Linked DNA regions of Homo sapiens. The protein of the gene in region 3 interacts with the protein of the main gene of each other region in a biochemical or structural test. Each region holds a gene or a part of one and is shown on either strand. Other genes may lie near its edges.

Region 1 (8,325 bases), on a different chromosome or scaffold from region 3:
ATTCACCCAGGAGGTCTTTAAGGGGTCTGTCATGGAAGGTGCTCTTCCAGGTATATCCACTAATGAGAATCTGAATACTCAGAAAGACTCTTAGGTTCTTTGGACCCCAAAGTGTTGTCCAAGCCCAAAGGTTGTGTAACTAAAGCTGATCCTTCCTACGGACAGAACTTCTTGGCAAGCCATTGTTGTGTTATATGCATGTGTGTAACAGTCTACCTGTGGAAACATATAAAATAGGGAGAGTTTAAGAACAATCTTCCCTTTTTTATTATTAATTTTTTTTTTTTTTAGGCTGGGCATGGTGGCTCATGCCTGTAATCCCAGCACTTTGGGAGGCCAAGGTGGATGGGTCACCTGTGCTCAGGAGTTCAAGACCAGCCTGACCAACATGGTGAAACCTCGTCTCTATTAAAAATACAAAAAAATTAGCCGGTCGTGGTGGCGGGGGCCTGTAATCCCAGCTACTTGGGAGGCTGAGGCAGGAGAATTGCTTGAACCCGGGAGGCGGGGGTTGCAGTAAGCTGAGATCACGCCACTGCACTCCAGCCTGGGTGACAGATCCAGACTCCGTCTCAAAAAAAAAAAAATTTTTTTTTCAGAGACAGGGTCTTGCTTTGTTGTCCAGGCTACTTTCAAACTCCCGGGCCCAAGCAATCCTCCCACCTCAGCCCCACAAGCTGCTAAGATTATAGGCATGAGCTACTATACCTGGCTAAGAACAACCTTCCTAATTAAGGAACAGATCTTTACCAGTACCTTAAAGCCCTAAACAATCCCCCTTGGTCACATTCTTTTCTCTCCTCCATAAAGATAACCACACCCTAGGCTGGGTGTGGTGGTTCACACCTGTAACCCCAGCACTTTGGGAGGCCAAGGTGGGCAAATCACTTGAGGTCAGGAGTTTGAGACCAGCCTGACCAACATGGAGAAACCCTGTCTCTACTAAAAATAGAAAATTAGCTGGGCGTGGCGACGCATGCCTATAATTCCAGATACTTGGGAGGCTGAAGCAGGAGAATTGCTTGAACCCGGGAGACAGAGATTGTGGTGAGCCGAATCACGCCATTGCATTCCAGCCTGGGCAACAGGAGCAAAACTCCGTCTCAAAAAAAAAAAAAAAAAAAAAGATAACCACACCCTGACTTTTGTGGTAATCATTCCCTTTCTTTTCTTTATTACCATTTGTGTATTTATACCTGGATAATAAGTTGATAGTTTGAGCTTTCTTTCTCCCCTAGCACTTTGGTAAGAATTCTAGGAATTAGGGAACTCTGACACGGTACCACCCCCATGTCCCCTCCTTTATCCCTCAGGGCAGAATTGGATTAAGCAGTATTGACCCAGTCCCAAAGTGCAGCTTGTCTAAACCTTCATCTCCTTGAACTCTTCCAGGAACCTCTGTGATGGAGGTCACAGCCACAGACGCGGACGATGATGTGAACACCTACAATGCCGCCATCGCTTACACCATCCTCAGCCAAGATCCTGAGCTCCCTGACAAAAATATGTTCACCATTAACAGGAACACAGGAGTCATCAGTGTGGTCACCACTGGGCTGGACCGAGAGGTCAGGGGTCAGGAGGATCCAGAGGGTGTGGAGGACAAATGTGTATTAGCTCAATCCCGTGGACAAAGCAAAATCCTGCTAGGCCAGTTGTCAGTTAATACAGTGATGGTCTAAGCTTTGCATCTAAGCTTGTGCCCAGAGGTTCCGTGCCTAGAAGACAGGCAGGCTGGCATGAAGCACATGGTTAAATATTCTGGTTCCATGTGTTGGGCTGGGCTAGGCCAAAGGTGGCTAGTGTTCCTGGTCCTGACTTGGTTGTGTCGATCTCTCTGCAGAGTTTCCCTACGTATACCCTGGTGGTTCAAGCTGCTGACCTTCAAGGTGAGGGGTTAAGCACAACAGCAACAGCTGTGATCACAGTCACTGACACCAACGATAATCCTCCGATCTTCAATCCCACCACGGTAATTCTATAACTCCTTAGAGGGTTTCCAAAGAAAGGTCTTTTGTTGTTCATGAACTAAGTGTCACCACTGCTCATGGGCGAAGTCTTTGAAAACTCTCTCCAGACTAGAGAATGTTAACTTTAAACTTAAAAGCAAGCATCTTGAGATGGCAGTTGTCTTTTAGTATCTTTTTTCCACCCTTGGCCTGGGGCCAATTGGTGCAAGATTGTGAAGTTGCAAAAAGCACCTACTGATTTCATAGTCTCATGGTACATTTTTATAGCAAATATTACCTGGTTTCATTTCTTTATTGAACAAATATTTTCTAAGTTTATATTAGGCACTGTGTTAGACACTGGAGAGACCATCACACACAAAGATTCCATTCTCATGGTGTTTCTGGTATAGCCAGGAAGACATCTTATGAGAATTATTGTATGCCAAGGATATTACATGCATTCAAGGAGAAGGTATTGAGAACCAAGTAGGGTAAGTTTAAATCATCCTGTATAATGGCCAGGCGTGGTGGCTCACACCTGTAATCTAGCAAGTTGAGAGGCCAAGGCTGGTGGATCCCTTGAGGATGGAGTTTGAGACCAGCCTGGCCAACGTGGCGAAACTCCATCTCCACTAAAAATACAAAAATTAGCTGGGCGTGGTGGTGCATGCTTGTAATCCCAGCTACTCGGGCATCTGAGGCATGAGAGTTGCTTGAACCCAGGAGGCGGAGGCTGCAGTGAGCCGAGATTGTACCATTGCACCCCAGTGCGCCCATTGCCTGGCCTCTCCTTGTCACATCTTCTCCTTGAAGCTTGCTTTCAGTTAGCCAGGTGTGGTGGTGCATGCCTGTGGTCCCAGCTACTCTGGAGGCTGAGGTGGGAGGATTGCTTGAGCCCAGGAGGTTGAGGCTACAGTGAGCCATGATCGCTCAAATACACTCCAGCCTGGTGACAGTGAGATCTTATCTCAAAAGAACAACAAAAAAAGAGGAATCCTTTAGCCCCCTGAGACTCAGCTCTGCTAGCAGTCTTGGTACTTTGTAAATGACACATCTCTTTGCTCTGCAGTACAAGGGTCAGGTGCCTGAGAACGAGGCTAACGTCGTAATCACCACACTGAAAGTGACTGATGCTGATGCCCCCAATACCCCAGCGTGGGAGGCTGTATACACCATATTGAATGATGATGGTGGACAATTTGTCGTCACCACAAATCCAGTGAACAACGATGGCATTTTGAAAACAGCAAAGGTTTGTATGGTACCTGGCAAGATGCAGAAACTGGCATCCTCACAGCTGTTCATACCCTTGTCCCCTGGTATCTTCTTAGAAGTAGATTCGCTTTGGCAGGGGGACAGGGTGACTTTCCCAGATTGTAGTGGACCATGTGGGATTTGCAGTGGCTCTTCCTGCTCATGTAAGAAATCAAGAAACTGTGCTGTGTGTGGTGGCTCACGCCTGTAATCCCAGCACTTAGGGACGCTGAGGCAGGCAGATCACGAGGTCAGGAGTTTGAGTCTCTGCTAAAAATACAAAAATTAGCCAGGCATGGTGGCACGTGCCTGTAATCTCAGCTACTAGGGAGGCTGAGGCAGGAGAATTGCTTGAACCTGGGAGGTGGAGGTTGCAGTGAGCCAAGATCGTGCCATTGCACTCCAGCTCTGGGTGACAGAGCAAGACTCAGTCTCCAGGGGTGGGCGGGGAAAAGGAGGCCGGGCGTGGTGGCTCACGCCTGTAATCATAGCACTTTGGGAGGCCAAGGCGGGCAGATCACAAGGTCAAGAGATCGAGATCATCCTGACCAACATGGTGAAACCCCATCTCTACTAAAAATACAAAAATTAGCTGGGCATGGTGGTGTGCACCTATAGTCCCAGCTACTAGGGAGGCTGAGGCAGGAGAATCGCTTGAACCTAGGAGAGGGAGGTTGCAGTGAGCCAGGATCGTGCCACTGCACTCCAGCCCGGCAACAGAGTGAGACTTCGTCTCAAAAAAAGGAAATCAAGAAGCTAAGGCTTCTTGGTGGCTCATGGTGGCTCATGCCTGCAATCCCAGCACTTTGGGAGGCCGAGGCGGGCAGATCACCTGAGGTCGGGAGTTTGGGACCAGCCTGGCCAACATGGTGAAAACCTGTCTCTACCAAAAATACAAAAATTAACTGGGCGTGGTGGTGCACACTTGTAATCCCTGCTGCTTGGGAGGCTGAAGCAGGAGAATCGCTTGAGCCTGGAAGACAGAGGTTGTAGTGAGCCAAGATCGTGCTACTGCACCCTGGCCTGGGCAACAGAGTGAGACTCTGTCTGAAAAAAAAAAGAAATCAAGAAGCTGTTACACAGGATCCTGAAATTGAAAAAGAAGTACTATCTGCTTTAATAGGCTCTTTCCCAGAAACATTCTCCTTCCCTCAGCTCTTTCCATTTTGCGGTGACAGAGAAAATGATTTACTGGTCTCTGCTCTTGTGCTGGTTTATTTTAGAAGTGGGGCAGATATGGTTGTTTTTGAAAAATGTCCTAGAAACTTGAAAACTAGCCAAGCGCAGTAGTGTATGGCGGTGGGCCCAACTACTTGGGAGGCTGAGGTGGGAGAATCACTTGAGCCCAGGGGGTTGAAGCTGCACTCAGCTATGATCATGCCACTGTACTCCAACCTGGGCAATAGAATGAGACTCCATCTCTTAAAAAAAAAAAAAAAAAAAGATGGCCGGGTGCAGTTGCTGATGTCTGTAATCCCAACACTTTGGGAGGCCAAGGCGGGTGGATCACCTGAGGTCAGGAGTTCGAGACCAGCCTGGCCAACATGGTGAAACGTCGTCTCTACTAAAAATACAAAAAATTAGCCAGGTGTGGTGGCGGGCTCCTGTAATCCCAGCTACTAGGGAGGCTGAGGCAGGAGAATTGCTTGAACCCAGGAGGTGGAGGTTGCAGTGAGCCATTGCATTCCAGCCTGGGTGACAAGAGCAAAAATTCTGTCTCAGAAAAAAATAAAATAAGGAAAGAAACTTGAAAACTAAGAATTTGAGTGAATTGCTTGTTGAAGTGACTGGATCCCTAGAATAGCCCCAGCTTTGCCTTCCTCTTGAGTAGGTGAGCAGATTTGAGAAGCCATGGTAAGTAATTGTGGTTTCTGCCATTGAAAGTCATGGCAGAAACCACAGTTACTTTTGCACCAACCTAATATATTACCAAAAGCAACAGTTAAGGATTTAATTTTATTTTTACTAACACAAAATGTTTCGTTTTGTTTTTAACTTCATTGTTTCTGCTCTCTAGGGCTTGGATTTTGAGGCCAAGCAGCAGTACATTCTACACGTAGCAGTGACGAATGTGGTACCTTTTGAGGTCTCTCTCACCACCTCCACAGCCACCGTCACCGTGGATGTGCTGGATGTGAATGAAGCCCCCATCTTTGTGCCTCCTGAAAAGAGAGTGGAAGTGTCCGAGGACTTTGGCGTGGGCCAGGAAATCACATCCTACACTGCCCAGGAGCCAGACACATTTATGGAACAGAAAATAACGTAAGTGTGAGGATTTTTCAACTGACTTGCAGCAACTGGTTATTTTATATCATTTTATATGTAAATCAATAATATGTACTTCATGGCATTTTGTCATTTGTCTGTACAAGACCATTCTCTTAATTTATTTTTTATTCCCTTTATCTGTGCTCCTTTCACCTGTTCCCTTCCCTTCACAGACAGCCGTTCTTGGTCTGATGTGCTGCCTCTCTTTGAGCTCTTGTAGTATGGTAGAAATGCAATTTTACTTTGCATACATACTATTGTGTTTTTTTGAGTTTGGAGTCTCACTTTGTCGCCCAGGCTAGCGTGCAGTGGCGTGATCTCTGCCTACTGCAGCCTCTGTCTCTTGGGTTCAAGCAATTTTCATGCCTCAGCCTTCCATGTAGCCAGGATTACAGGTGCCTGCCACCACGCCCGGCTAATTTTTGTATTTTTAGTAGAGACAAGGCTTCACCACATTGGCCAGGCTGGTCTCGAACTTCTGACCTCAAGTGATCTGCCTGCCTCCTAAAGTGCTGGGATTACAGGCGTGAGCCACCGCACCCAGCCCATAGTATTGTGTTCTAAGTAGCTTACTATCAGTATTTCTCCTTTCAAACTTGAAGGTACCTCTATAATGTAAATCACACAGATGCTGAGAACTGAGAACCCACATGCCAACCAACCAACTACAACACTTGCTTTAAAATACTCTCATTTTGGGTTGGGCATAGCAGCTCATGCCTGTAATCCCAAAACTTAGGGAGGCCTAGGCAGGTGGATCACTTTGAGGCCAGGTGTTGAAGACCAGTCTGGCCAACATGGTGAAACCCCTGCCTCCACTAAAAACACAAGAAATTAGCTGGGCATGGTGGTACACACCTGTAATCCCAGCTACTCGGGAGGCTGAGGCACGAGAATCACTTGAACCCAAAAAGCTGAGGTTGCAGTGAGCTGAGATCGAGTCACTGCACTCCAGCCTGGGTGACAGAGTGAGACTCCATCTCAAAAACAAAAAACAAAAAAACTCTCATTTTCTATGTGTAGCCAATGGACTCCTCATAATCTAGAGATATTTCTACATGCTCCAAACTGTAAGGCCTGGCAAGATGGGTTTTAATCGAAGTTTAAAAGAATGATGAAAAGTCAAAGACAATAATGTAGGATTAGGTTCAGTGATGAAACCCTGGATTGTACAGTTTCCAGGCTGGGTTGAAAGCTTGCAGTAGTGAAATAGATAGTTCAAAGCATCTCCTGGGGCAGATTCAGGGACCAGGTCTTTAGTGTCTGTTTCCAGAGGCCCTTACGCCTGGAACAATGACCACTTGATGTAATTCATTGCTTTGCACTTCCAAAGAAGTGAGGCCAAGCCCACAGTTTCTTAGAGCCCTTTCCTCCTTTGATTTCTTAGTTTCTCTTTCAGAGCCTTTCCATGACCCTAGTAAATAACTGAGCAGTAGATCTCTGTTAGCCTCCCTGTACCTCCCATTAAATGGCAATAGTGCAGTCCACCCACAGGTCAACAGGGCAACCTGCATCTCCAGATGTTCATGACAGGAGAGGAGGTGGCATGTTGCCACCATTTAGGAACTACTGTATTGTTTGGGGGAGCTGGTCTGCAGGAGTCTGCTTTTAAAAATAAATAAGGATTATAGTAATCATTGCTTCAGCAAGAATCATCCACAGATGCCAAATCCATTGGGTGAAAATTAGTTGCTGAACAAGATATTCTCAAATTATCTACCTGCAGATTATAGGTTAATCATGCAGTGAAAAAAGGCACCTTTGCTGTGAAGAAATCTGGTGGCCTTTCCCTTATCCAAGTGATCAAAGTTATCAATAGAAGCACAGACAGACATCATGTGCCTCCCAGTGTCCTGCACTAGGGAGGCCACAGCATCACCTCTGTCCTGTTCTTGCCCCCACCGACCCCTGAAATGGATTACCTGAATCTAAATTTTGAGGAATAATCAGACAAACCCAAGTTAAGGGGCATGCTACAAAACAACGGCCAGCACATTTCAAAAATGTCAGTGACAGAAAAGAAAGACCTAAGGAAGAGCCATGCCAACGAAAGGCCATATTGGATCCTGAATCCAGAAGGGTGCAAGGTTGCTATAAAGGACATTTTTGGAAAATCTGACAATTCGAATATGCACCATATATTCGACAATAGAATTCTATCAAAGTTTTGTTTCCTAAAATTGAAAATCAAGACTGGTCACGGTGGCTCACACCTGCAATCCCAGTGCTTTGGGAGGCCGAGATGGGTGGATCATCTGAGGTCAGGAGATCGAGACTATCCTGGCTAACATGGTGAAACCTCGTCTCTACTAAAAATACAAAAAATTAGCCGGGCGTGGTGGCGGGTGCCTGTAGACCCAGCTATTCAGGAGGCTGGGGCAGGAGAATGGCATGAACCTGGGAGGTGGAGCTTGCAGTGAGCTGAGATCACGCCACTGTACTCCAGCCTGGGCGACAGAACGAGACTCTGTCCCAAAAAAAAAAAAAAAGAAAAGAAAAAAAAAGAAAATCAAATTGGGGTTATATAACAGAATGCCTTTGTTCTTAGGAGATAACACATTGACATATTTATAAGTAAAGGAACATGACTTCTGCAATTTATTTGCAGATGGTTCAGCAGAACAAGAAATTATGTAGGCGTGTGTCAATATAGACAGAGCAGATGTGGCAAAGTATTAACAATGAGTAAACTCAGGTGAAGAGTTCATGGATGGTCATCATACTATTATAGTAACTTGTCTGTTGTATTGTTGGTTTTCTTGGTTTTCTTTTTTTTTTTTTTTTTTTAAAGACGGAGTTTCGGCCGGGCGCGGTGGCTCACGCCTGTAATCCCAGCACTTTGGGAGGCCGA
Region 2 (8,325 bases), on a different chromosome or scaffold from region 3:
CTGAGGCTCTTATTTCCTCCTATTACTATTATGCTCTGTTTTCCAATACATTCTCTCCTCAGATATTAAATACTTTCTTATTCAAAGGGAAAAATAGAACCAATAAACTGGAATCTCAATAGCTTTTTTGTATTGCATTTAAATGGATAGTTATAAATGGGATTATCCATTATGATTATGTATTATTAAAGCATTTATAATTCCCATAGTGTTTTTACGAGAATTTTAAATTTTATTTATGTATTTACATATAGAATAATGCCGGACTTGAAGATTTTGAAAGGAAAAAAACCCTTGGAACAGGTTCATTTGGAAGAGTCATGTTGGTAAAACACAAAGCCACTGAACAGTATTATGCCATGAAGATCTTAGATAAGCAGAAGGTGAGTGTATTTGTTGTTATTTACCTTCAGGGTAAACTTTAGTTTTATCAGCTAGACTATTAAACAGATTCAGTATAATGACTTACCATTGACAGCTTCAAATAATTTTATTATTAAATTTAATTTTTATTGTAACTAAATTTTTATTGTAACTATATTATACATAGTTAGTATACAGTCAGCCCTTCCATATCTATGGGTTCCACGTCCATGGATTTAACCAATCACAGATTGAAGATATTTGGGAAAAAAATTACATCTATACCTAACATGTACAGACTTTTGTTTCTTGTTATTATTCCCTAAACAATACAGTGTAACAACTATTTACATAGCATTTACAATATATCAGGTATTATAAGTAATCTAGAGATGATTTAAAGTATATGGACAGTGTGTATAGGCTTTATGCAAAGCCTCTGTCATTTTATATAAGGGACTTGAGCACCTGGGCATTTTGGTTTCTGCTGTAGGTCCTGGAACCAACCCCCAGGGATACTGATGGACAACTATAATTTATTGTGACAATTATGGACTAATTTGTTTTGTAACTATTACAGAAGTTAAAATGTGTACAGTAGTGATCCAACCACTTCATGTTACAAATTTTGAAAACCTGAGGCCCAAAGATTTGAAATCATCTCAAGTCAGAAAGTTAGTTAAATAAAAGGCCTAGATTAAAACACAAATCTGACTCCTACTCAATTTATTTGCTCAATATTATCAGTATACTCCTAATTTTATATATTAATACCTGGCTGGTATCTTTAATTACTTTTGTTATTTATATTTAACTTCTTGACTTCTGTGACTATCCTCACATTGACCATTAGACTCCAGCAAGAAAGAATGCCACCTTCTAATGATTTACACATATACAAGAAAATTATTTATATGTCTTGCTAAAGTCACCACTTCTTAAATTCAAAATAGAATCACATATGGAATAGAATCACAGTCTTCGTGAAGTCAAGATAAATTACTTTCCCCTTCTATTAAATAGAAAATCTAGAGGAAGCTTAAGTCTAAATGACCTAGGATACAAAGATAGTTTTTGTTATAAAGATAGTTTTTTCCCCAATATTTTGTGTGTCCTCTTCTATGGCAATATAAAATAAATTTTTAGAATTTATACCTATATTTATTTAGATATTATAAAATGAAAATTGTTCATTTTTACTCACTATTTTTCAGTTATGGACTTTCTCTTCATTTTTAATTTTCTTATTCATCTTCTGAAGTATTTAAAATCACTATCTACTTATTGCAGAGATTTGAGCCAGCTTTTATAGAGGACTTTAAGTCATTAGGACCTTAGTATTTTCACATTCATTTTTAAATTACCTTAAGTAATTATATATTTATTTAAGCATAATTGACATAACTAATTTTTAAAGTAATTTCTTATGAGTTTGTTTCTTATTCCTACTTAGCTCTCACTTCTTAATTGAAACCATAATTGACCTTCCTAAGACCAAGTTTTAAATCCTCTATTAGGTTTTCATTTGAATCCTATTATTAAAAGTAATGGCAAAAACCGCAATTACTTATGCACCAACCTAAAAGTTGGTAATTGTTATTATCTTCCTTATCCAATTCTAACAATTTTGCTTATCCAAGTTTATTACTATATGGAAAACATTTTTTTAAATGATAACTTTTTAATTTTGCTTAAATACATTAAGAGATATTTATCTCTCAATTACAGGTTGTTAAACTGAAGCAAATAGAGCATACTTTGAATGAGAAAAGAATATTACAGGCAGTGAATTTTCCTTTCCTTGTTCGACTGGAGTATGCTTTTAAGGTAAATTTTAGTAATATCTAAATAAGATATTTTCAACCTAAATTTTTTTTAAGATGAAACTATAAATGGATTCTAAACCAGATGATAAGCCTGAAGAATATGAATAAACAAAACGAATACCTCTAGAGTTTGTGTAATTAAATCCTATTGTGCTTATAACTTAGGTAACGTTTGAAAAGGTTTTGATTCTCCCTGGGGAAATTGTTCAAAGGTGATACTCATGAGATGGTATTACAAAAAGAAATATTTCAATTTATCAAAAACCATAGGGATATCTTAATAACAATTCTTATGCAAATTCATACACCCAACACATTTTCTACTTTGATTAAGCCCTTTTTGCCACTATCTCATCTTCTTTTACTTAGTAATTTGAGTTCTAGTCTTTTCACTTATACAAAGCAAAATTTTTGTTCCACTATTCAAATGTCTGAAAAATTGTACCACATTTATTATTTAAATTGGTCACTTTTGAGCTCTTTGGAATGATACTGGCATCTCTCTGCAATATTGAATCATATGAAACATTTTAATCTTTTTTCTCCTTTATTCTTTAAATTAAATGAAGACCTATGTATTTAAAATATTAAAACCATTAATCTTTTATACATAAAATGTAAATATTCTTATTAACTTTTTAAATTGTTTTTTACCTTTGTTATTCTTTTGCATATATTATAACGTTACTTCATTGCCTGAGTATTTAATTGTTTGAGAACTAGATGTTCTCTGCAAGAAAAGGAAGAGCAAAAGTCCCAGACTAGTTTGTGGCAAAAATAACTAGGAGGGGAAAAATATGAGTGTCTCTGTATAGAAAAGCTAGAGCATGTTCCATTTATTCTTTATTTCTCAAGGTTATTAATCTGTCAGAGAGATTTTAAATTTTTCTAATTCAGCATTATATAATATTAAAATAATTTTGACCTAAGTTGAATAATTGTATTTCCTTTTTATTTGTTCATAGGATAATTCTAATTTATACATGGTTATGGAATATGTCCCTGGGGGTGAAATGTTTTCACATCTAAGAAGAATTGGAAGGTTCAGGTAACTAATGGTTTTGCTTTCTTCAAATCTTTATATGCTTGTGTTGTTTAACCAGATTTTTAAGTTGATGCCAATGCCAAAAACTTATTTTGTTTGATTAATATTTTGGCCATATGAAGCATTAGGTGGAAACAAAGAGGCCACATCATACACAAGTTTTAATATAAAGAATATAAAAATTTAATATAAAAAAAGGACTTTGAAGCCAATTTAAATGTTATACTACTGCTAGATATTGTGAGGGTCCACTACTTGAAGAGTTTTCAGAAAATGGAAAAATTAATTGAATTTTAAAATATCAATATTTATTAAACAAAGATTAATAATACAACTCCAGGACAGAGGATTGTTTTAAGGATGAAGATGGAAAATAAATATATAGAGAAATAATAATAATAGTATTATGGTAATAAGATTATAAAAGTTTGTTTTTCACAAATTTAATTCTCCTTAAAGTTCTTGCTAAGTTTAGTTTTTAAAATATACACATAATTTAACGGGAGTTTGTACCTCATCAGGTTATGACTAATAAGATCTCAGAGTTATTAAAATAGGTTATAGAATCTGATGGTTTTACCTGTACTTAATAGTTTATAAGCTTCTACCGTTCATTAATAATCACTAATAGAATAAAGCTAAAATAAAAAACAGGTACAGCTTCATTCAGTATAGTGTGTTGAAGTCAAAATAAAAATGTAGAGACAAATCTCTAAATTCAACATTTTATTGAGGAAGCAAGAATTGCAGTTTGAGGCATATACACAGACTAGGTGGTCTTCAATGTGTCTAGAAAACAAAGAAAAGGTTGGAGGTTTTATAAAAAGAAATTTTATGTTTATTTGTTTTGAAACAAAGTTTACTAGCACTAGTTAAGTTTTGGGGAGCTGGCAAGCTCTGATTGGTGAGTGATGGTGGTGGGTCAGACTCGTCTAAGAGTCGCAGTAGGTTGTCTCAGTAGCTGTTAGAGAAAACTGGTTTCAGGTTACAATAGGCAGTTTCAGCAACTAGACTTGTGGAAAATATAATTTTTTTGTTTGTTTTTGGTTTTTTTTTTGAGACTGAGTCTCCCTCTGTTGCCCAGGCTGGAGTACAGCGGCACCATTTCGACTTACTGCAACCTCTGCCTCCTGGGTTCCAGTGATTCTCTTGCCTCAGCCACCCGAGTAGCTGGGACTAGAGGTGTCCGCCACCACATCCGGCTAATTTTTCTATTTTTGGTAGACACAGGTTTTCACCGTGTTGGCCAGGCTGGTCTCGAACTCCTGATCTCAAGTGATCCACCCTCCTTGGCCTCCCAAAGTGCTGGGATTACAGGTGTGAGCTACCACACCTGGCCTTAATTCTTGGAGCAGGTGCTGTGTGCCCTGAGTGCGTTATTCCCTGGCCCCTCGACTCTGATTTAGTTAGGTATGATGAGAATGACTAATTTGTATAATCAGCTTTCACATTTTTCCCTTTTGATCAAGATCTTTCTCTGAAAGCATTGCTTGTCAACCATCTTGAAGTTAGGCTTAATTATTCCTTGGTGCTCGGATGGACTTGTTCTGGTTGTCTCTGTCCCACATATGAGAGAAGTTATCTGTTGGGGGGTGTCTATGTAGGGACCTGGGCCACATTCAAGTAACGAGGAGGCCAGAAGGAAAATTTTTCTCAAAGTAGATTTTTGTCTGGAGTCCAGCCAGCATCGAGTTCCCACTTATCACTTCCATAGGTATTAGCAGTCATCTTTAAGTGTTGGGCTAACGTTATTCTGTTGGGACAGCTGCCTTTACAAAGATTAGATAGGCACTAAGAACAAAGCTTACAAATGATAGTACAAAAAAATTAACAATATAGTAAAATGTATTTGTGCAGTGCTTTTGAACTAAAGCCCAGGCCTAAGGGCAAAAAACTAAAGAAATCAAAGGACCAGGGGAAACTGGTGAGACCTGCTATAGCCATTGACTAACATTTTATGACTGGGTTGAACTAAAGCAGAGAATGCCAAACTTTGCAAGAGGGACCACCAGCACAAATTAAACAAAAAATTGTGTTAAGGATATTGTCGATGTTGTGACTAGATGAACTGAAAGAATTTCTTAAGTCAGGCTTTGTCAATGGCTTTAGCAGGTCTCACCAGTACCTATAGCAGTTACTGATTGTGAATTTTAAATTACAATATTATTTGGTTAAGTGAAAAAGCAGGCATTAAGAGGGGTAAGAGTTTCATTACAATATGGAGTCTTGTTCTAGTGTTTTGAGAAAAGCTGTTCACACCATGGAAAACATCAACTTTCTTGGCTTTGTTTACAGTGTAAATGTCTCTGGCTATGGCTTTGGGCAGTTTGATGAACTTTCTGTGTGGCCCATACATCAGGCATGAGACTTGTTTCTTAAAATTTATATAGTTTCAGCTAACAGGACTTCAGGAACAGAGCGGTTCTCATTTTAGTAATTTTATGGAAGAAAGTTCGATTGGAGGAACCTAGAAGAATTTAGGACCTTGTCTAGTCTATAGGTAGATAACAAGACTCAAAAATAATGTACAGACTTACAGTCTAATAACAGGTATATTATAGTTATTCTTTAGAAAAAACTTTTTTCTCTACATTGATTACATAGGAATCTTGGATTTAAAAACCTCTTGAGGCAAGGAAGCCGAACCAAGGCAGTCTTAGATTTTCCTTACAGTCTTGAGGTTCCTGGTCCTGCCAGGAAGTAACAGTTTTTATTTACTCATTGTAATGCTGAGAAACCCTTGAAGTCAGGCATTTTATGCACTTTTTAAATACGATAGTTCAGTTAGAGCCTTAGTAATATAATCAGTGTTTTCATATTCTGCTATAAAGAGAGAGCAGATTTTTACTGGACCTGTGCAAATAGTCATATTCCCATAAAAGTACTTACAACTAATTTTTGAATTAAGGAGAAAAAAAGCAAATGCTTTTATCTTTTTTTACAAAAATATACTTTACCAAATTGCTATAAATTATAAATAGCTAAAGAGATAAGTTTTTTTAAATCTGGAAACCAAAATATTTAAGAACTAACAATGTAACAATGTTTTAAATGAAAGTTATGAAAACATTATTTTTATCAATTATTTAATTTCATGTAATTTTTGTTCTGCTTGATCTTAATTAGTATTTTCATATACTCATCTTTTTTTATTAGGGTTCTGGAAATTTTTATTTAGTCTATTGATCTTAAAGTTATTAAAAACCTGTATTTAAGGGTACTTGTTGGGGTCTTTTCTATGAATCTGATTGTAAATAATTTTGAGAATTCAAAATATTAACTCTGGATGACAAAAATCTAGAATAGCCATGGGTAAAAATCTGATGAAAGTTTACAATTAACAAGTAAAATTAGTTATTTCTATTTTATCTAGCATTTTAAGACAATAACCAGAATTATGAATAACGTTAATTTCTCTGAATTTATATAATTTTTGAAACATTCATATGAACAACATAGCCATAAATGCAACTAAAAGATCTAGTATCACATCATTTATACAATCTCTTATATAATTTAAAAATAAATCTAATTATTTAATACGTCTACAAGATGAGATCTGTGTCTTCAAATGTTTTCCAAGGGCCCAGCTGGAAAATCCCAAAGCTAATTCTAGATTAAGAACATTTAATTTAGGATTTGATTTTTGGGAAGTTTGTTAAACATCTTAAAAGACTTAAAACCCTTGGTCAAAACGGAGTAACAGGTCACTGTAAAATAATAGTCATTTATTTAACCAGAGTGATAATCAAAAGACATCAGATGTAATACAGAAAGTTATATGAATGTGAAAACTTTTATTATTTTTAAAGCTCAGTTTTTCTGAGTAATGAAAAACCTGATAAAGACAACATAGGATATTATCTTGATAAAATATAAAATCTAGTTTTTTAGACAAATCACCAAAATGGTAAAGAAAAATCTTCTGCAGTATGCTCATTATTTCTTTTTCCCATTTAGAGCTTTCCATTAAAAAAATTACCAATCATCTGAAAGTTGATTGAGTACTTGAATTTAATCAGACACAGGAAGAATGTGTCCAGGGTTATTGAGTGTACACTGTGTTATAGAAAAATATGAACAAGAAGAGGACTATCTTGAGCAGGGAAATACATGGCTCTCAGTAACAGCATGAGAAATTTCCTGGTTACATGAAATAATACAGACATACCAAGAAGAGCCAAGAATACAGATTCAAATTATACTGAAAGAAAACTTCGTTTTTCTAGGCCTTTAAGATAAACGTTTCTGCATCAGGCCATAACAAAGTTCAAACTGAAAAAAAAAAAAAAGTTCTAGGAGTTGAGGAAAAAGGTTGAAGGAGGGAGTTATCAACCCAGCCAAGCAAAAAGATATACCTTTCAAGAAAGAGAAGGGGATGTATGACCTTCAAATCATGTGTAGTGTGACACAGCAAAAGCCGAACTTCTGAAATATAAATTTCAAAAGGAAAACTTTACCTCAAGAAATGGAATTACTATTTTTAATGAAGAGGACAGCATTTCAAACCTAAAACTAGGGAAATTAATTAGATCTCAGGAAGAAATGTGGCAGAAATAGAAATTGCACTTTGGAAGATGGCTGTCAAAGAAACAGATTTTATAATTAAAAATCACAACCTTTTGCAGTATTATTGAGAGCAGATCAATACTTCAAGAAAGTTTTGTTTAAATATAGAGAGCAAGATTCTGGTCCTTTGTCAGTGCACCCTTGACACCAATCATTAATTTTTAGAAAAATATGTAAACAATTTTCCTTTCCAATTTCTTTCCCTAACTATTTACACATAAAACTTTTTTCATAAGGTCCATCCTTTCATTTTTCCAAACCCCCAGTCTTAATCTTATAATTTTTCTTTTCTTCTTCCTCCGTTTTTGGAACAGCCAATCATTTTACTTTAGGAAAAATATTTACCACCTAATATACTTTTCATACAACATATTTTTTTCTTACATTCATATTTTGACTACTAGACCTCAATATACTTAAACTTTTTATAGAACTTAAGAACCCAATAAGGGATTTATATTTATTTAGCAATTTGTTTTAGTTTTTAAACTTATTTGTTATGGCCCAGACATCTAATAAGTA
Region 3 (8,642 bases):
GAGTTTTCCCTGTTCTGACAGGTTCAACTTACGTGTGGATCTGTTCATCTGAAAGTCCTCGGGGATTTCGGATAGAGATCTGTGGCACCTCATGGGGATACTAGTGGGGGCAAATAACAAGTTACTGCTGAAGCGGTCCACCCCAGGGACTCTCCCCTTCCTCCCTTTGCTGCCACACAGTAGGGGCTTCACCTCTGCTGGGACCTGAAGCACCAGAGTGAAGCAGACATACTGTGAATCCTGGTCCTCTGCAGTGGCAGGATGCAAAGTGATGTAGATCTCCCATGGTGAAGTTCTGCAGGTGGATCAAGTGGACACGCAGATGTGACTGGGTAGGGGCTTGGGGGCTGGGGAGGATGGGGCTGAGACAGTGAAGTGGGCAAAGGAAGTACACATTGGACTCTTTCTTTTGGGGTAGGATTAAAGGAATAGCTTTTGTCTACACAAGAGAAATATTATCTCTGAATCAAGGCTCACAATGTCTTAAGACCCAAATTCAGCATAGAACCTCTCCTCATTACTAGGGGGACTCCTGCCCACCACTGGTTGAATACATACCTGCCATTTCCTTTAATCACCTGTAGTTCATCTAGATAGATGGACTCCAATACTTCAACTTCAGAGGGAAGGACCCTAGAGAGACAGGAGTAGACTAACTTACCATTACAGCTCTCCCTGTGGAAGCCTGCTAAGGCCAATAAAGGCAGGCTTTGTAGAAAAATGGCAATCTACCAGAATGCATTCTCCTGCTAAACTCCTTAAAAACAAGGAATATGTTACCTTAAGTTGTCAACTGGCCAAATAGAAGGCATGGAAATCAGAATTTTAGGCATCATTTCTGCCAACAGATGAAGAAGTGGATTCTAGAGAAGTAAAATGACTAACCAAGGCTTAACATAGGTAGAACTAGGCCCAGAGCCAGGTTTCCTGACTCCCTGTTTAAGTTTCATTCCCCTTAGTGGCTGAATCTCTGGTCTAGAGATATGGCACTCATTCATTAGCATTAACGTTACCAATATTACTCCAACCTTTCCCTACGTCACTGTCCAGTGTGGATCCCAGTGCCTTGGCTACTGTCTACATACAGTTTTAACACCAGTCACCCTAAGCCTTCTTAAAGGAGATAGCAACCTCAACACAACATATTTAGGGTGGTATAAAGGCTGTGTTGTAATGGAAGAGCCAGCAGCCTCGGAGTTAGTTAACAGGTACCAATCACTTACAAGCTATGCAATCTGGGACGTGACCTCTCTGTAAGCTTAAGTTATCCTGTCTGTCACATATAGATAATAACACCTACTCTCTAGGGTTATTGTGAGGATAAAAGGTGATTTGTTTACATAAAGTACCTAATAGTATCTGGGCTATCGTAGCTAGTCTACGTCCTCTTTTTTTCCTGTCTGTATATAACCTTCTCCCTTAGAAGGAAAGAGGGAAGGAAGGAGGTAATAGAGTACTCTGGATGTATTTATGACCTGGCTGTCTGGTTGATCTAGATCAGCCTGTTGAGGTTAGGATCCATGGTTCTGATGTAAATCAAGGGACACACATACTTAAGCATAGAAACAGCAGTTGTAATGAAATTGAAGCTGAGTGATCAGTTTGTGTCTACAGCTCTACCAAGTGATACATGGAAAAATGCACACTTTGCTTTCTCACACTGCTCCCTCTTCATTCTAAGAGTAAGGCTGCCCCAGCACGACCTATGTCAGTGTTGTTAAGTCTTAGGCAGAAACTTCAAAATATAAAATATAAAGCTTCACACCTCACAGATAACAGTGTAGTTCTGGCTGACATGGGAGTGGGAGTCTCACAGTACTACAGGCTGCTGCACTCATTGTTGCTGTCTCCATGGCTCAAGGTGTCTCCCCTGAATCTTAAAAGTTCCCCTGAACAGGTAAACTGTAAGTTATCCCAGCGCTTTGGGAGGCTGAGGTGGGAGGATCACTTGAGGCCAGGAGTTCGAGACCAGCCTGGGCAACAAAGCGAGACACTATCTCTACAAAAAATAAAAAATTAACTGGACACGGTGGTCCCAGCTACTTGGGAGACTGAGGCAGAAGAATCACGGGAGCCCAGGAGGTCGAGGCTGTAGTGAGCCATGATCTTGCCACTGTACTCCAGCCTGGGTGACAAAGTAAGACTCTGTCTCTTAAAAAAAAAAAAAAAAAAGAAGTTTCCCTGAACACTTTGAAAACCAGTAGTCTAGATACTCTTAATAACGGCCAGTACTAGCTGGGCTCCCTGAACCAATGTAACATTGAGGTGTAGCCTCAGTCAAGTGGCCCTTCAATACTTCGCCCACCCTAGTTATATGGGTCCTGGATGGGATGGTGGTAAGGTGGTGACAACAAAATGGGGGAGGGGGGCCGGGCGCGGTGGCTCAGGCCTGTAATCCCAGCACTTTGGGAGGCTGAGGCGGGTGGATCATGAAGTCAGGAGATAGAGACCATCCTGGCTAACAGGGTGAAACCCCGTCTCTACTAAAAATCACAAAAAATTAGCTGGGTGTGGTGGCGGGCGCCTGTAGTCCCAGCTACTCGGGAGGCTGAGGCAGGAGAATGGCATGAACCCGGGAGGCGGAGCTTGCAGTGAACCGAGATTGCGCCACTGCACTCCAGCCTGGGCGACAGAGCAAGACTCCGTCTCAAAAAAAAAAAAAAAAAAAAAAAAAATTGGGGGAGTGGGGACTGAAGAATGTCCTAGTACAAAGAATCTAAGGTGTGGAGTCAGACAGATATGGATTTCTATTCATAATTTTCTATCTTTTGGCAAATCACTTTACTTCTTTGGGACTCATCTAGTCTTCCCAGGTGCCTGCACCTCAGTTATTAATGAAAAGGAGGCCGGGTGTGGTGGCTCACGCCTGTAATTCCAGCACCTTGGGAGGCTGAGGTGGGAGGATCACTTGAACCCAGGGGTTCAAGACCAGTCTGGCCAACATGGCAAAACTCCGTCTCTACAAAAAATACAAAAATTAGCCAGGCATGGTGGCACACACCTGTAGTCTCAGCTACTCGGAAGGCTGAGGCAGAAGGATCACCTGAGCCTGGGGAGGTCGAGGCTGCAGTGAGCCGTAATCGCACCACCGCACTCCAGCGTGGGCGAGAGTGAGACTCTGTCTCAAAAAACAAAACAAAACAAAACAAAAAACAGACTTAAGTATATTACAAATCCGTCGTGATCCTCTCAACTATTCTGAGGTAAATGCCACACCCACTTTTTTTTTTTACAGCTGAGGACACTGACTCACAGAAGCTAGATGGCCTGTTCAGCATCACACAGCTAATAAAATGTGGAGTTAACCCACATTGATCCTACTTCCAAATCCCAGAGTCCTTCCATGTTCTAGTCTTTGGTTAAGAATGCTTGAGAGAAGGACTAGAGGGACTTTATATGAAGTGTAAAGCTTTATTCATACAATAGTCCTCACTAGTGCTGTGTGAGAGAGAGAAGGCTGAGGAAAGCGTCGGCGGAAAAAGGCTGATCCAAGGGGAAAGGGGGCCGGAACTGGAGGGCACTGGTTCTGAGAGGAGAAAGGGAGATGGGGAGGTCTGATGGGCAGGCATCCCCCAAAGCCCCTGAGAAAATTCATTTGAGGAGGAGAGAAAGGGATGGCGTGAAGCTGGAGGAAAAGGGATCGAACCGGATGCGGCGAGGCCTGAACTGGCCTGGCGGGCGCCGACCCGTTCTCCTCTCACTCAGATCAGCGCCCCTCCACCCTCCCGTTCCCCAGTCCAGCTTTCCCAGAGATGTCAGCATCTCTGCCATCCCTCATCCCTCGCTCCACCCCACACGCCCGCCGTACGGACCGTCTGCGACAGCTGCTAGGCCTCTGGACTAGATCCAGGCTGTCAGCCAAAGCCCATGCCCCCAAAGTTACCAGTCCTCCTCCCCTGCAGCTGCAGACGCAGACGCCGCCATATCTTCACCGGCCCGCAGCCGGAACCGGAAATGCCCTTAGGGAAGTCGGAGGCGGAAAACTAAGAGGGGTGGGCAGCTAGCGTCGTTTCTAGGCAACCGCAGACTCCGGGTCCTTAGCCGGGCCTGATGGCCCTGAGGCAGTTCGGATGTGTCCCAGGAAGTGCCCATGTGTGGTCCGCCGTCCATTCCACACCTCTGAGCGCCTTTGTCCTCTGAACTTCTCACCAGTTCTAGCGAGTAAAATTGTAAGAAAGGGAGCCGAAAGAGACCGGAGGGAGAGGCGGGTGGAGAAGAATTATAAGTCAGGCAACGTATGCAGGCAGCCAGAAGAGATGGGGCTAAACGCCAGGGAATCCGTCCCTTGGCCTGAGGAGCTTGGAGCTCCTAGGCTGGGGGTGAGAGAGGGGCTCTGGCCTGCGAAGCGCACGGGCCAGGGGGTCTGAGAGCGGGTGCTGAGGAGTCTGGGAGTGGCAGGAACTTGGGGGAGACTCAAAGGAGCAGGGTTGGTTGGGCGAGGCTAGGTTGAAAGAGTAGGGTCGAGTGAGCCAGGCTGGGTGAGGGAGAAGGGGAACCAGGTGTTAGTTGGGCATGGGGCCGGGTTGGGGACAGGAGGATGAAAGTGGGGAGGAACTACAAAGAGAAGCTCTGTTTGTTCCAAGAGCGCATCATCTTTGCATGCATTCCACCCTCCCATGTTTTTTGAGGCTTTATTGTGAAAAAGAGGAAAAGGCAAGGTGGCTAACATTTTTCCTTTCCCGTGCCCCAACTAGGCGTCCCAGATGTTGTGGAACTGTCCCTGGATCTATAGCTCTTCACCGTCTCTACTTTCTTCCTTCTAAGAGATCCTGAAACCTCTGTCATGGAAAAGTACCACGTGTTGGAGATGATTGGAGAAGGCTCTTTTGGGAGGGTGTACAAGGGTCGAAGAAAATACAGTGCTCAGGTGTTGCACAAAGAGGGATACCTTTTGGGTGGGATTTGGTACCCCCAACTCCAGTGGAAAATGGATCTAGAAGGAATGTATTTATACCAGTTTGTATTCCTAAGGTACTGACTCCCTCATACTTCTTATGGAGTATAAGCTTTGAAGTTGGATTATTTGGGTGCAAATTCCATCTCCACCGCTTTCTAGCCCTAGAATTATGGACAAATTACTTAACTTCCCTATGTCTCAATTTCCTTATCTCTAGAATGGGGATAAGAACAGCAACTGATTGATGGAGTTTGAGGATTAAATATGTTTTCACATTAAATCACTTAGTACAGTGCCTGGCTGTTAGTAAACAACAAATATTATTAGTCTCTAGCACACCATGTAATAAGAGGTAAACCACTTGAACTCTATTATTTCCTCTTCATTTTTTTTTTCCTTTCCTTTCTCCTAAATCTCATCTTGAGTGCTGGTCAAATCAGAACACTTCTTCCAGAAGGGGAAATGTTTTGCAGATGCTGTTTCCTCCTGGGATGAGGAATGGGGAAAGCCTGGATAAGGCCAGGGTACCATGGAGAAAATGGAAGCGGGAGACTAACAGAAATAATAAGAGTTACTCAAACACTCTAAAATCTGACTTCTGGAGCTCTGAGATTAAGGCTGAAATTCTAGATCTTTTCAGTAGTGTGATTAGGCGTTAACTTTTCACCTTACCACTGACAGGTCGTGGCCCTGAAGTTCATCCCAAAATTGGGGCGCTCAGAGAAGGAGCTGAGGAATTTGCAACGAGAGATTGAAATAATGCGGGGTCTGCGGCATCCCAACATTGTGCATATGCTTGACAGCTTTGAAACTGATAAAGAGGTGTGCTTTGACAGTTTTGGGCCCTGTCTCCCCAAGCACAAGGGTTCCAGGAATTTCCCAACCTCAGAATGCATGAATCTGGAGCCATCAGTGCCACTGCCTTCTCTCTGTAGGTGGTGGTGGTGACAGACTATGCTGAGGGAGAGCTCTTTCAGATCCTAGAAGATGACGGAAAACTTCCTGAAGACCAGGTATGCTTTCTGCCTTCAACTTCTCCCCACCTCCGACCTCTCTCCAGGTTAGAGAACTGGTAGAGCAAGCTAAGGACACTGAGAGTCTCCATTTCAAAGACTTCTGAGAAGAATATAAGAGTCTAGGTATATAGAGGCAGTGTAGTGTGGGAGTAAATTATGTAAACGTTGGAGTCAAAATATCTGAGCAGGAAGCTTGGCTCTGCTCCTTCCTAGCTGGGTCTCATTGGACAAGTTACTTTAATTTCTTTGTGCTTAGTTTCCTAATTTGTAAAATGGAGATAATAATCATGTTTGCCTGATAAGTCTATGATGAAGAGTGTTAAGTCATGTAATGTGTTTGAATAGTTAGCTATTATTAACATTATTGTTATTAGATACCTTTAGGGAAGAAGGGCCAGTGTAATGGTACCAGAAAGAGGGCAGTAAGAATAAAGGTTGTGGGGAGTCAGGATTTGGCACCAGGACGTAGTGGTTAGCAGTGGGATTTTGTTGCACATATCCTCCAGCCACATTTATTCTAGGCGTTTGTCTGTACCCAAGCAAGTAGGCCCCCCCTGGGATTCATTATTGCAGCATTCTCTTTCCTTCTGAGCACTCACCACTATTTGTAAGTAATCATATTTTTGAAATTATTTTATTTTTAATTGAATTTTATTTTTTGAGACAGAGTCTCGCTTTGTTGCCCAGGCTGGAGTGCAGTGGCACAATCTTGGCTCACAGCAAACTCCGCCTTCCAGGTTCAAGCAATTCTCGTGCCTCAGCCTCCCCAGTAACCAGGATTATAGCATGCGCCACCATGCCTAGCTAATTTTGTACTTTTAGTAGAGATGGGGTTTCACCATGCTGGCCAGGCTGGTCTCGAACTGCTGGCCTCAGGTGATCTGCCCGCCTCAGCCTCCCAAAGTGCTGGTATTACAGGTGTGAGCCACCACGCCCGACCACCATATTTGTTTTATCTGTCTTGTTTGTTTGTCTGACTACTTTTCTTGAAAAAAGGCATTTTGTCTTATTTAATAACAGGTAATGTGTATTGAATATTTACTATGTGCCAGGCACCATTCTGAGTATTATTTTGCATGCTTTAACTCAGTCCTCACAATAATCCTCCATGTAGATGGTGTTATTATATAGATTGTCACCTTAGTTTGCCCATGGTCAAGCAGATAGTAAATGAGATTCAATAAATTTTTCTTGAATGAATGAATGAGCAAATGAAAGAGTGATTAAACAAGGGGAACAATAACTAAGAAAGAATAGTGTGAAGCTCTGCAAGAAAGGGAAGGAAGAAAAGATTAGCAGTAATATTAAGAGAAATTTTTGGGCTTGTCAGCCAGCTGCTGTTTCTAACCTTTTTTTTCTTTCTTCCACCTCTTTAATTTCTAGGTTCAGGCCATTGCTGCCCAGTTGGTGTCAGCCCTGTACTATCTGCATTCCCACCGCATCCTACACCGAGATATGAAGCCTCAGAACATCCTCCTCGCCAAGGGTGGTGGCATCAAGCTCTGTGACTTTGGGTAAAGATTCTGAGCATCCATCTAAGCTTCCAGTTCCACACGGAATCTTTTTTTTTTTTTTTTTTTTTGAGATGGAGTTTCACTCTTGTTACCCAGGCTGAAGTGCAATGGTGCGATCTCCACTCACCACAACCTCTGCCTCCCGGATTCAAGCAATTCTACTGCCTCAGCCTCCAGAGTAGCTGGGATTACAGGCATGTGCCACCATGCCTGGCTAATTTTATATTTTTAGTAGAGATGGGGTTTCTCCATGTTGGTCAGGCTGGTCTCGAACTCCTGACCTCAGGTGATCTGCCCACCTCGGCCTCCCAAAGTGCTGGGATTACAGGCATGAGCCACTGAGCCTGGCCCCACAGGGAATCTTAGACCATACTCTTGACTTATTTGGGCCTCATTTTAGAACCGGAGCTAGAGGCTGGGACTGCTGCTGGGTCTTCTGGAACCTAATCAAAGGTGCTCCCTCTGCTCCGGTTTGGGATATCTCTATGTTAGGTAGTAGTGACCAGGTTTAGAATATCTTTTCCCTTTCCATTTCCATCCCATTATCTTCTGCAGATTTGCCCGGGCTATGAGCACCAATACAATGGTGCTGACATCCATCAAAGGCACACCACTCTATATGTCTCCAGAGCTGGTGGAGGAGCGACCATACGACCACACAGCGGACCTCTGGTCTGTTGGCTGCATACTATATGAACTGGCAGTAGGCACCCCTCCCTTCTATGCTACAAGCATCTTTCAGCTGGTCAGCCTCATTCTCAAGGACCCTGTGCGCTGGCCCTCAACCATCAGTCCCTGCTTTAAGGTAATGAATATTGAAAGGGAGATGACTTTTACATTAGAAATCTGTCTCCCTCTATCTCTGTTCCTTTTTCCAAATCCTTTTCCAGAGCTGAGGCGGGACTTTGCAGTTACTGAATTAATGGCTGTGTTATTCTGTTCTCGCATTGCTATACAGAACCACCTGAGACTGGGTATTTTATAAAGAAAAGAGGTTTAATTGGCTCACAGCTCCATAGCCTGTACAGGAAGGATGGCTGGGGAAGCCTCAGGAAACTTACAATCATGACGGAAAGCAAAGGGGAAACAGGCATGTCTTACGTGGTGGACCAGGAGGAAGATAGAGAAAGGAAAGGTGCTACACGCTTTTTTTTTTTTTTTGAGACACAGTTTTTTTTTCTTTTTTTTTTTTTGAGACAGAGTCTCGCTCTGTCA

The links.
Region 1: of the proteins of RNF25 (region 3) and CDH1, one has a biochemical effect on the other in vitro, tested with the Homo sapiens proteins (one study listed by BioGRID).
Region 2: of the proteins of RNF25 (region 3) and PRKACB, one has a biochemical effect on the other in vitro, tested with the Homo sapiens proteins (one study listed by BioGRID).

What each region holds. Positions count from the first base shown.
Region 1 is NC_000016.10:68,810,292-68,818,616, forward strand, and holds part of CDH1 (cadherin-1 isoform 1 preproprotein), read left to right. Parts: coding exon 1-50; intron 51-1,392; coding exon 1,393-1,568; intron 1,569-1,843; coding exon 1,844-1,972; intron 1,973-3,021; coding exon 3,022-3,204; exon of another isoform or gene 3,205-3,271; intron 3,272-5,223; coding exon 5,224-5,468; intron 5,469-8,325.
Region 2 is NC_000001.11:84,181,946-84,190,270, forward strand, and holds part of PRKACB (cAMP-dependent protein kinase catalytic subunit beta), read left to right. Parts: intron 1-254; coding exon 255-383; intron 384-2,091; coding exon 2,092-2,190; intron 2,191-3,154; coding exon 3,155-3,237; intron 3,238-8,325. UniProt on the Homo sapiens protein: Mediates cAMP-dependent signaling triggered by receptor binding to GPCRs.
Region 3 is NC_000002.12:218,668,047-218,676,688, forward strand, and holds the start of RNF25 (E3 ubiquitin-protein ligase RNF25), read right to left. Parts: upstream 3,957-8,642; 5' UTR 3,925-3,956; coding exon 3,884-3,924; exon of another isoform or gene 3,813-3,883; intron 634-3,812; coding exon 559-633; intron 296-558; coding exon 193-295; intron 101-192; coding exon 33-100; intron 1-32. Other genes in the region: STK36 (serine/threonine-protein kinase 36), read left to right, coding at 4,784-4,867, 5,579-5,719, 5,833-5,910, 7,297-7,427, 7,983-8,232. UniProt on the Homo sapiens protein: E3 ubiquitin-protein ligase that plays a key role in the RNF14-RNF25 translation quality control pathway, a pathway that takes place when a ribosome has stalled during translation, and which promotes ubiquitination and degradation of translation factors on stalled ribosomes.